Linked DNA regions of Homo sapiens: region 2 is linked to region 1. The links come from fine-mapping of genetic effects on gene expression. A gene starts in region 1. The other region holds a variant in brackets. All regions are shown on one strand. Distances are from middle to middle.

Region 1 (5,371 bases):
AAGGGTACAAAATTTAACTGTGACTTGCCCAAAGTCAGCAGTGCTAGACAGTTAGGAAAGGAATTAGACATCTACAAGTTATTGGTACACAAGGCCCATCTCTGCGACACTGGAGTTGCAAAGCTGTCTATCCACCCTACCACATCAAGCCAGCTATGTTTAGTAAGTCCAGGAAAAAAACCTGTTCTCAACCCCCGAATGACTGGCCTATTCCCGAGGCTTCAGCCTCCTCACTCTTTTTTTTTTTTTTTTAAGTCAAGGCGGCTGGGCACGGTGGCTCACGCCTGTAATCCCAGCACTTTGGGAGGCCAAGCCAGGTGGATCACTTGAGGTCAGGAGTTCGAGATCAGCCTGGCCAACATGGTGAAACCCTATCTCTACTAAAAATACAAAAATTATCCAGGCGTGGTGGCATGTCCCTGTAATCCCAGCTACTTGGGAGGCTGAGGCAGGAAAATTGCTTGAATCCGGGAGGCGGAGGTTGCAGTGAGCCAAGATCATGCCACAGCACTCCAGCCTAGGTGACAGTGAGACTGTCTCAAAAAAAAAAAAAAAAAAAGAGTCAAGTCTCACTACATCGCCCAGGCTGGATTTAAACTCCTGGGCTCCAGCAATCCTCCCACCTGGGCCTGAGTAGCTAGGACTACAGCCCCCTCACTCTTAAAATTATAGCATTAGTCCAGGGCAAAAATAGCCAGTAAGTCCATTCTAGGCTGAGGCAAAAATCAGAAATTTGGAGGACAAAGAGGGAGATCAATTCAGGTTCCTTGGGAGAAAGTAATCCATTTGGAGGGAAGTGATTCAAATTATAAAGGACTCCCTAGACCAAGAAATCATCCTCTCCCCCAAATATCTTCCAGACTGGGACAAGAATGAATCTTTAAAGTGTTTTATGCTCTAGAAGGTAATATTCCCAGGCTCATTATAGTCATATCTCAAAGGTTAATCCAGGGATGCCATAGAACTGTTCTGCCTCCTAGAAGCTCGTCTCCGGAGGCTTGGCATTCACTCTTCTAGAAAAATCTCTGCTGCTTTTATTTCTTTTCAAGAAATATTTATTTACCTGTTTTGGTAATTTACCTAACATTTTACAAAAGCCATGCCAGAAATCTTTCCTGCTATAAATTGTGATTCCTCCTTCCCCAGATACCAGAGGAAAGGGGACTTCAAAACACTCTAGCTAACCTCTACTACTTTATCTGTAAAATGGGATTACTGCAAAAATTATATGTAAATGTATGTAAAGTACCGGGCACAGGGGAATAGGCAAATTCTAACATCGGAAATGCTCGAATGCTGTTGGTTCATGGGCAAGAAAACAAATTAAAAAGATGCCACACCGCTTCCCCCTAAAATATGTTTCTGCCCTGCCATAGAGGCAAGAATGTCAAAGGTGGCAATTATTATATTTCTTATAACAGATATGACACTCTGGCCCTTCCAAGGAAATAGAAAAACGTAGCAAAGCTAGTAGATGCTGCTCACCATTCAAAGCTGCCCCAATCCAGTCCCCAGAATGTAGGTCTGAACTAGTCTTGAAAGTCACACCTTAAAGTGAAACACCCTTAGATCTATTAGCTTGCCTATTTCTGAATTACAGCTCCTATCAAGAACAGAGAACTTCTAAAATCGGCGACTCTTTTTAGGCCCCAGATTTAACCAATTTGCGTTAGCAACCCCGGAGCTTAACCAAAGCACTCCCAGCTGTCCTAGCGTGTGGGTAACAAAAAAAGCAGCAAATGGTCCTCAATTAAACATCAGCTGCTTTATCTATTTATTGAACACTCACTGTATTGCAAACACAATAATCCTCCCATTCTTGTCTCAAACGCTTAGAGAAGTCTAAAAATCATGGACAGAGAACAACAATGGAAAACACCAGTGCCTGCTGTCTGGCCAACCTCTACAAGATTAGAAAACGGACCAAGACACCTTCTGAGAAGAAAAAGCTGTTTCTGGAGACCTTTGCACTAAAGGGTTCAAAGCAAGTGGACACCTATCACATATCCCTTCAGAAAAGGAACCTCTAACACCCGTTTTTAAGAAACAGACTGTTCTTAGAGGTCCTATAATCCATCCACTGTGTGAGCCAAATCTCACTACATCAGCCATGAGCACTAGAGCCAAAAATTAATTAGCTCGTCTTTTAAACAGGAGGCTGTAGCTGGGAGAAACGGCTGTTTTGAAAATAAATAAGGGCACTGGCGCCCACGCTGGCTTAGCTTGCAGTCACACGCACTTCCATCAGGGGAATCGAGGCCAGGACAGATGGTGACTTTTTTTTTTTCCTACTAGCACGGTGAAGGCTTTTTCTGTGCGTTCCCGTCCGCAGTCCCTGACCCTAGTCTGGGAGGCAGCCCGCTCTGCAAGGGGACAGGGCGGGCTGGAGGAGGGTGGGAGGTTAGGACACCGACCTGAGGAGTTCAGATCGTTGGGTCGGCTCTCGGCCTCGGAGCTCTGCTCACTGCCCATGGTGCCGACAGCGGTGGCAGCAGAAGAACGGCGGGCCGGGCGGTCACCGCTCCGGCGGCGGGCGACAGGGCAGGGGCCAGGGACCGGGACGGGGAGGCAAAGCAGAGTCTGGGCGCCGCAGCGAGGCTAATGTGTGGGGCTGACGCGTCCAGCCCACGCAGGGGCCTGGGCGGCGGGAGAAGGAGAGGCCCTATTTGGGGAACAGAAACGCAAGGAGGCGCGGCGCGAACGCACGCGGCTAGCCCTCCTTCTTTCCGGGAGCCCTAAGAGAACCGGCAGATGACACTGGCTTTGCCGCACCTGCGGCCGGCGGGCGGCGCCGCTTTCACTCACTGGTTCACGCTCCGCAAGCTCGCTCCTTCCGGGACGCAGATGGGCGGTGCCGGCTACGCAAGACCTTCAGTTCCGGATTAGGAGGCCCCGCCCCCCGGCCCGAGGGAGGGGCGGAGAGACCCGCTCCTGCGACTTAGGGCGATGCCACCTTAAAGGGCTTGACCTCCTCGAAGCCAGAACTGCGGAAGAGGGTAAGCCCTTTCCTGTTGTAAGGATGCGTCACCTTTAAAACACCACCCACACTATTAAGCTCTTCAATACCCACATGTGAGAACAACTTTACAAAATAGGTATTTTTAACCCTGTTTTACAGATGGAGAAAGAAACGCTAGATAGACCCAGGATTCGAACCCACAACAGCTTGGATGCAAAGCTCATTTTGAATTCTGAAGAGCTGGGAGTTTAGCAGTGGACGACCAAACAAAAAAATACCAGAAGACGGTGAAAGCAGCAGCTGGAAATGAGAGAAAAATTAAGAAATAGAAAATGCTGTTTCATGTATTAGGGAGTGCACATCTTTAAAGAGAAGTGAAGAACCTTTTTGGCTAGGCGCTTTCTGGGGACCTTGGCAGTTATCAACAAGTCACTCTGAAACTAACAGAAGGTGAGGAGGGAGTAATCCAGAAAGGAAACTGCCATTTTTGCTAGGGCAAGAAAGTAGACCTAGCAATGCAATGCCATCAAGGAGTTAGCTGGCTCTAGCGTTCTCCGAACTTTGCAACTCATTTTATATTACATTGTCTGCGTCAAGAAATTTCAAGTAAATGCCTTGAGATTTTATATGTATAAAATGTAGTCTCTGGCCAGGCGGGGTGGCTCACGCCTGTAATCCCAGCACTTTGGGAGGCTGAGGCGAGTAGATCACGATGTCAGGAGATCAAGACCATCCTGGCTAACATGGTGAAACCCCGTCTCTACTAAAAAATACAAAAAATTAGCCGGGCATGATGGTGGGCGCCTGTAGTCCCAGCTACTCGGGAGGCTGAGACAGGAGAATGGTGTGAACCCGGGAGGCAGAGCTTGCAGTGAGCCGAGATCGCGCCACTGCACTCCAGCCTGGGCGACAGAGCGAGACTCCGTCTCAAAAAAAAAAAAAAAAAAAAAAGTCTCAGAAGAAGTGTCAAGTTGACTAAATGATTTTTAAGTCCCTTCCACTCTACTATATCACAATAATTTCCCCTATTTTACCTTATTTAATTTTCACAACAACCCTGCAGCCTGTAAGTAGGTGACTCCTCCATGGTCAGCAGGTGGTCAGTGGTCGAACTATTTAGGACTATCTGATGCTCTTTCCTCTGCTCACCATTGCAATACAATGAGAAAAATGCAAATGAATCTAAGTACAGTGTTCTCTGGGAATATGAAGATAGAACTAAAAACTGCCTGAGAGATCAGGGCAGGCTTCTAGAAAGTTGTGTCTAACTAGTCTTGAGGTTTACATAAACCACACCAGGCTGATGGGACTGGGAAGGGCCCACTAAGCAGTGAGACCATTCCCTTTTGGAGAGTCCTTGCATCCCCTCCCAGATTTCCTCTTTGAGGGGAAGGTGAGAGAGGAGGTAAAAGGGGTGAGGAATGGAGAATAACTCATTCTGGTTCTTGTTTCCCCTTTTCCACATAAAAGTATATTTGTCTTGTGTTCCATACACCAGTCCATACTGATGTGATGGTGTTTTTTATGCTTCCTTTTGAATAAACATTTCATTCTTAAAAGGATAGTCTGTCGCATCAACTGATGAATGGATAAATAAAGTGTGGTAATCATGGAATATTTATTCAGCCAAAATGAGGGAAGGATGAAATCATACTGATACATGCTACAACATAGAGTAACCTTGACAACATTATTCAATATGAAAAAGGCCTGTCAGGCCGGGTGCGGTGGCTCACGCCTGTAATCCCAGCACTTTGGGAGGCCGAGGCGGGCGGATCACGGGGTCAGGAGATTGAGACCATCCTGGCTGACAAACTGAAATCCTGTCTCTACTAAAAATACAAAAAAAATTAGCCGGGCGTGGTGGCGGGCGCCTGTATTTCCAGCTACTCAGGAGGCTGAGGCAGGAGAATCGCTTGAACCCAGAAGGCGGAGCTTGCAGTGAGCAGAGATCGCACCACTGCACTCCAGCCTGGGCGACAGAGCGAAGACTCCGTCTCAAAAAAAAAAAAAACAAAGCGTATCACAAAAGACCACATATTGTAGATTTCATTTATATGAAATGTCCAGGAGAAGCACTACAGAGAGAGAAATATGTTAGTGTTGCCTAAGGCCGAGGAGGGGTACGGGTGGAAGGGAAATGTAGACTATTATTGGGTATGGGGTTTCTTTCTGGGGTTGATGAAAATGTTCTAAAATTGTAATGATGAATGCACAACTCTGAATATATTAAAAACCACTGTAGAGTACACTTTACCAGGGTAAATTGTATGGTATACAAATTCCATATCCATAAAGCTATATTCAGTAAAAGAACATATGAAGATAAAATTCCTTCCTTCACTGGCTTAACATTTCTTGGGAACCTGAAATGTTCTAGGCACTTGCTACACGTTAAAAATAAAAAATTCA
Region 2 (5,301 bases), 110 kb before region 1:
AGCCAAAGGCAGAGTTCTGCGGGAGTGGGAGGAGCCGTGGGCCCAGCGGCTGCCCACACCACAAGTGCAGGAGATCCATGGTAACGTGCACGTGATGGAACAGGGCCTGACCTACATCCACTTCCAGTGAATACACATGGCTGTTGCTCTACTTCCACTTCCAAACCTCATGCAAATCTCTCTCGTGGCCAACCCTCACCAGAGAAACAAACAAGGAAGGGAATTCTGGGAACACAGTTCAGTTTAGCCAAGTTCACGACACTGCAGAAACCACAACATGCCATCAAAATATTAAACTAACTAGAATTCTTTCCGGGAGTATTGAATTTGCCTATTGTTCTTCTGCCATACTTCTCCGCTTCCACCCAGTAATAAGTAGCCTATCACCTACTCAGGACCCCAGTCTAAGTGAACCCCATGTTTTGTCTAACTTCTACTTTAGAAGTAGACACAGTTGGCTGGAGAGCTGGCTGACTGCGTGGTTTGTTTGTGCTGCACTAGGTCTGCCATCCTGCCCTGTGCCAGCCACTAACAGCTGCAGCAGTGGAAAGGCTCGGCCCTCGCAGGCTTGAACTGCCACCCACTCTGTGCTTTCATGTGTCACCTGTATTAAGTGCAGTGAGGATAATGGCACCTAAGCTATTTTTGTAGCTCTGTAAACAGCCCTTCATTCCTCGAAGCTACAAACATATCCCTGTGTTCAGAACCAGGTTCTGTATACTCCAGAAGAAAGACAATGATGGTGATGTCTTAAATATACCACTTTTTGTCAATCTAGGTGAAAGAAATATGAATATTCATTGTATTATTCTTTTGAATTTGAAAATGTAAAATTAATTAATTTTTTTTAATTAGCTGGATTTGGTGGCACACACCTGTAATCCCAGCTACTCAGGAGTCTGAGGCGTGAGGATCCCCGGAGCCCGGGAGTTTGAGGAGTCAGTGTGCTATGATTGCGCCACTGCACTCCAGCCTGAGCAACAGCACAAGACCCTGTCTCAAACCAAGATTAGAATCAGATCAAGTTTAGCCAAGATACATTAAATTAAGCGCATCAATTTTAATCTTGTGAATCTACTGAAGGCTCTTTCTGGTATCTGAAAACACACCTCCCGACGCTTGCAGGAACTTAGGGAACAGGGTACAGGCCTGCATGCCGTCCTGGCCCCAGCGACTCCCTTCAGCTCTGACTTTTAGTCTCAAGGTGTCTGCCTAGGTCTGCTCCTCACATTCCACTCTTTGCTTCTCCAGTCCTTGCTTCCATTAGAACACCTATGATGTGTAAAGTACGACACTAAGCACTTTTGTTGTTACTCAAATAACTTCCTTTCCTAAACTCCCAGAGAAATTCAGCAGCTTTTTGAGCTTTTTTCTTTTCAGAAATGAAGGCCTGAGGCTATACGGCCATATTTGTATCCCTGGCACAATATTGGACACATCAAATGGGTTCAAGAAATGTCTGTGGAATGAGACATCTCTGCAGTCAAAGAAAGCTAAACTATGTCTGCATCAAGGAAACCGGTTATCAGTGGAGATGAATCTGATGAGGGTGTGGAAAGGAAGGCTTCAGCTTCTGATGACGACTAAGGGACACCTAACCTGACAGTCAACAAAATGCCAGTGTTCCACCTGGGCAGGAAGACGCGCCCCAGATAAGGGCTTGGTGTGACGGAAACAGTCAGGGTAGAAACAGGAACAATACAGAGACCTAGATTCAATTAGTTTTTCAAGTTGACCACACATAAACCAGACAGCCTACTGAAAAGTTCATGAGGGCGTTGAGAACACAGAGCTTCGTAAAATATTTTCCCCTTGTCTCCATATTTTTATTCCGGTACCTGGACTGGACTATATACTCTCAATTAAAAAAAAAAAAAAACTAAATAAAAATAATTCTCAATGCAGAGTTCTTCAAAGAATTCCTAATAATTCACACGTTCCAGCTTCAGTTATCACCGAGAACTGGTTAGGTTCCTTCCACACCGGGAAACTGCATCAAGGAAAAGAGCTGGGCAAAGTCAGATTTTCATGCCAGCC[G/A]GACTCCTTCGCACCCACTTTCAGGGAGCCTCCCGCCAGCCTCCAGACCTGGTCAGATGATATGACCTTAGCTCCACACGTCCTCAGGGTGTCGGTGTCTGGGGCTCCCAGCCCCAGGCAGGCCGGGCAGCAGCTACAGCCTGAGCTCGCGGTCGGGCTTCATGCTGAAGGGCTCCAGCCGCTCGCCCTCGGGCAGCATGCTGTTGAGCCTGTCCAGCAGGGGCACAGTCTGGTCGATGCCCATCTGTATGCGGCGGAGGATGGCGGACATCTCGTTCACTTTCTGGATCTGCTCGGCATACTTGGCGTATCTTTTCTGGCGCTCCTGCATGAAGCTGAACAGAGTTTCTACAGACAGATCCATCTGTGGATGGGAAAGAGAAGTACATTATACCTTGTTTAATCAAGTCCTCTCCGCAGGGCCGGGTGTCCAGCCTGTGAGGGACACAGTCCCGCAGATCCAGTGGAAGCTGACAAGTTTTACAGGAAGCACCCAGGGCTAAAAAGCCCTTCAGGGACACAGCTTTATCAACTGTTGTGCCAGAACCACCTTTAGAAGAGAACTGAGAGGGGACTGTCCCTGGCTCTATGTTCTGGGAATGTGCGTTATTTGTACCTTGTTGAGATCCTGAGATTTCTATCTCCCTATATGAGGGGAATTCTGGATGTGGAAATCAGTCAGGCCAAGGCTGAATCTGGCTCTGTCACGTGTATGAGCTGCTAATGCTTATCCTTTGTGTCTCAGGTTGCTTATCTAGAAAAAAACTAGGAGCAGATGGGCGTGGTGGTGTGTGCGTGTAATCCCAGCTACTTGGGAGGCTGAGGTGGGAGGATGGCTTGAGTCCAGAAGGTCGAAGCTGCAGTGAGCCATGATCATGCCACTGCACTCCAGCCTGGGCGACACAGTGAGACCCTGTTTCTAACAACAATAACAAAAATCCCAAACCCCAAAATGCATGTTCTTCACTCAATCCTTCTCTTCCCTGGACGGCTGCAGTTTGGCGGACACTCGGGGAACACTGCAATGGAAGGGAGGCTCTCCCTGCCAGGGCCAAAAATGCAACCAAGGCTCCCGTCCTTACAACACACCACATTTGTCAAACTGTGAGGACTATCTCATGTGCCCTTCTCCCCCATTAAAGAAACTGCGGGCTCTGGGCTGCCCTTGCGTGACTTCTTCTCTTCCCCTTACAGAGGCTCTTTAGTACCCATCACCCAGATAAAAATAGAGAGAGAGACCGCCATCGTGTTGGGCACTTGCACCCCTTCCTCAGCATGGACCCCACTTCCACCCCCTCACCCCTTGTTTCTTTCCCAGGCCAGGAGAAAACAGCTCAACTACTGAGGCCCACACTCCTATCCCAAGGTTCCCAGGCTCCTCCAGCCCTTCCTTCTGGTTTATTCCTGGAGCACGCCCCTTCCCGACCTTGCATCAGGACAAGGGCTCAACACCCGGTACCAGAGAGCCTCTGAAAATGGCTTCGAGAGACACAAAAACAAACTCATGAAAACACGGGGGACCAAAGCCAGCCCCAAGAAAAAATAATTTCCCTTTTGCTATCATCTGTGGGGAGGGCAGGAGGGGCGGGAGGCGACCGAAGCACATCAGTGTTGCTGTCCTCTGGCGGGCCTCTTGCTTGAGTGCCTGCAGGGCAGGAGGAGCAGCTAGTTGGGCACGGGGAGAAGGAGAAGAGAAAAAAAAAAAAAACATGGGAGTGAGAAACTCCAAATAATGTGGAAACAATGCACACTTTCCGGGGTTCTCTGCAGCCCTGTCTGGCGCTCAGCACTTTGGAAGTAGTGAGCCAGGAGAGTCCTGTGGTCCTGACAGTCACCCGCTGGGCCTTTTCAGGGTGGCCTTGCAATGAGCACTGAGAAACACTCCACACACCTGAGAGACAGCGGGGCTCGTGGGAGCCAGGTGGAATCCTGAATTGGGAACCTTCTCGGGCATCACATTTTACTTGGCAGGGCATTCCTGGCCCTCCACCCCGCAACCCTACCAGACTAGATAGATGCTTGAAGAGTTTCTATCTGAAATGGCCTCCAAGGCTCTAACTTATCAAGTCTAAAGTCCTTGGCAGTCAATCCATCCCCGATTCACACCTGATGAAGACTGTTCACAGCCATCTTCACAGGTACTTGTCAAATGGCATGTACTTCCCTACATGTTTCCACATCCAGCTGGGGCCCGTGTTTAATGTCTCCAAAGCTTTTGTAAAGGCACTTTCTGTTAATGCTGAGATGAGCACACTGAGTTCAAACAGGTTGTTCATGCGTGCTGACATCATGTCTTACTTCCATTATGCTCCATGGAAGAAAAAAACCGCAAGAGGAAACTTGAGTTTGCGTGACTTTGAAGATCTCACAGTGACAGAACCTACACTGGACCCCAGCTCTCCGAAGTCCAGCAGCTCCCCTCTTTTACACATATTTCCTGAGCAAGACCCTGTATCACTGGTGCTTTATGAGACTTTTGTTGGCACGTGGCACTGCATTAAAGAAGACTAGATCACATGTAGGGAAAGTTATTACCTTTTAAATGTTTCCCCCATTCTTTGTTGCAAAGAAAGTCTCAACTTGGTGCAAGCAACAATGGACTATCTGGAAAAGGATGGTAAAACTGTTGATGCCTATTTTTGATGTCTCTGACCTTTGCTCTTGAGGTAACATTGTCCTTGATCCATAATCCCTACCTTTACTCCACGAACCCCCAGACACATGCTCATTGTAACACATTTGATGTGACTGTAGGCAGTAAACCAGTATCTCACACAATTCTGAATCACCATTTTGACAATCTAGGGATATATCCTTATTTGCCTTTCCTATTTCTATTTTTGGCACATGGATTCTAACAAGATAACATATATACTAATTGTCTTCTGGATAAGCAGAGGTGTTATGATATCACCTAGGGTTGCCTCACTGAGCACCCATAGCCATTCAAAAGACCCAGCTTGGCCAGGCGTGGTGGCTCATACCAGAACTTTGGGAGGCTGAGGAGGGCGGATTGCCTGAGCTCAGGAGTTCGAGACCAGCCTGGGCAACACGGCGAAACTCCGTCTCTATTAAAATACAAAAAATTAGCCGGGCGTGGCAGTGTGCGCCTATAGTCCCAACTACTTGGGAGGCTGAGGCAGGAGAATCGTTTGAACCCAGGAGGCAGAGGTTGCAGTGAGCCAAGATCGCACCACTGCACTCCAGCCTGGGTGACAGAGCGAGACTCCATCTCCAAAAATAAATAAAATAAAATAAATCCAG

Evidence for each region.
Region 2: its variant is fine-mapped to the expression of BORCS5 in prefrontal cortex (BrainSeq, PIP 0.92).

The regions. Positions count from the first base shown.
Region 1 is chr12:12,354,553-12,359,923 of GRCh38, reverse strand. It overlaps BORCS5 (BLOC-1 related complex subunit 5), which reads right to left and starts at 2,846. Exons shown (of 4, transcript NM_058169.6): 1 at 2,415-2,846. The coding sequence starts at 2,472. It overlaps LOH12CR2 (loss of heterozygosity on chromosome 12, region 2), which reads left to right and starts at 2,857. Exons shown (of 2, transcript NR_024061.1): 1 at 2,857-2,996; 2 at 3,119-4,516. RefSeq lists enhancers at 1,417-1,496, 2,383-3,061 and a silencer at 2,437-2,516.
Region 2 is chr12:12,462,646-12,467,946 of GRCh38, reverse strand. BORCS5 (BLOC-1 related complex subunit 5) reads right to left here. Exons shown (of 4, transcript NM_058169.6): 4 at 1-2,401. The coding sequence ends at 2,171. Among named protein-coding and RNA genes, the nearest start is that of DUSP16, 98 kb to the left of the region's middle. The variant G/A (reference allele first, on the strand shown) is at 2,038.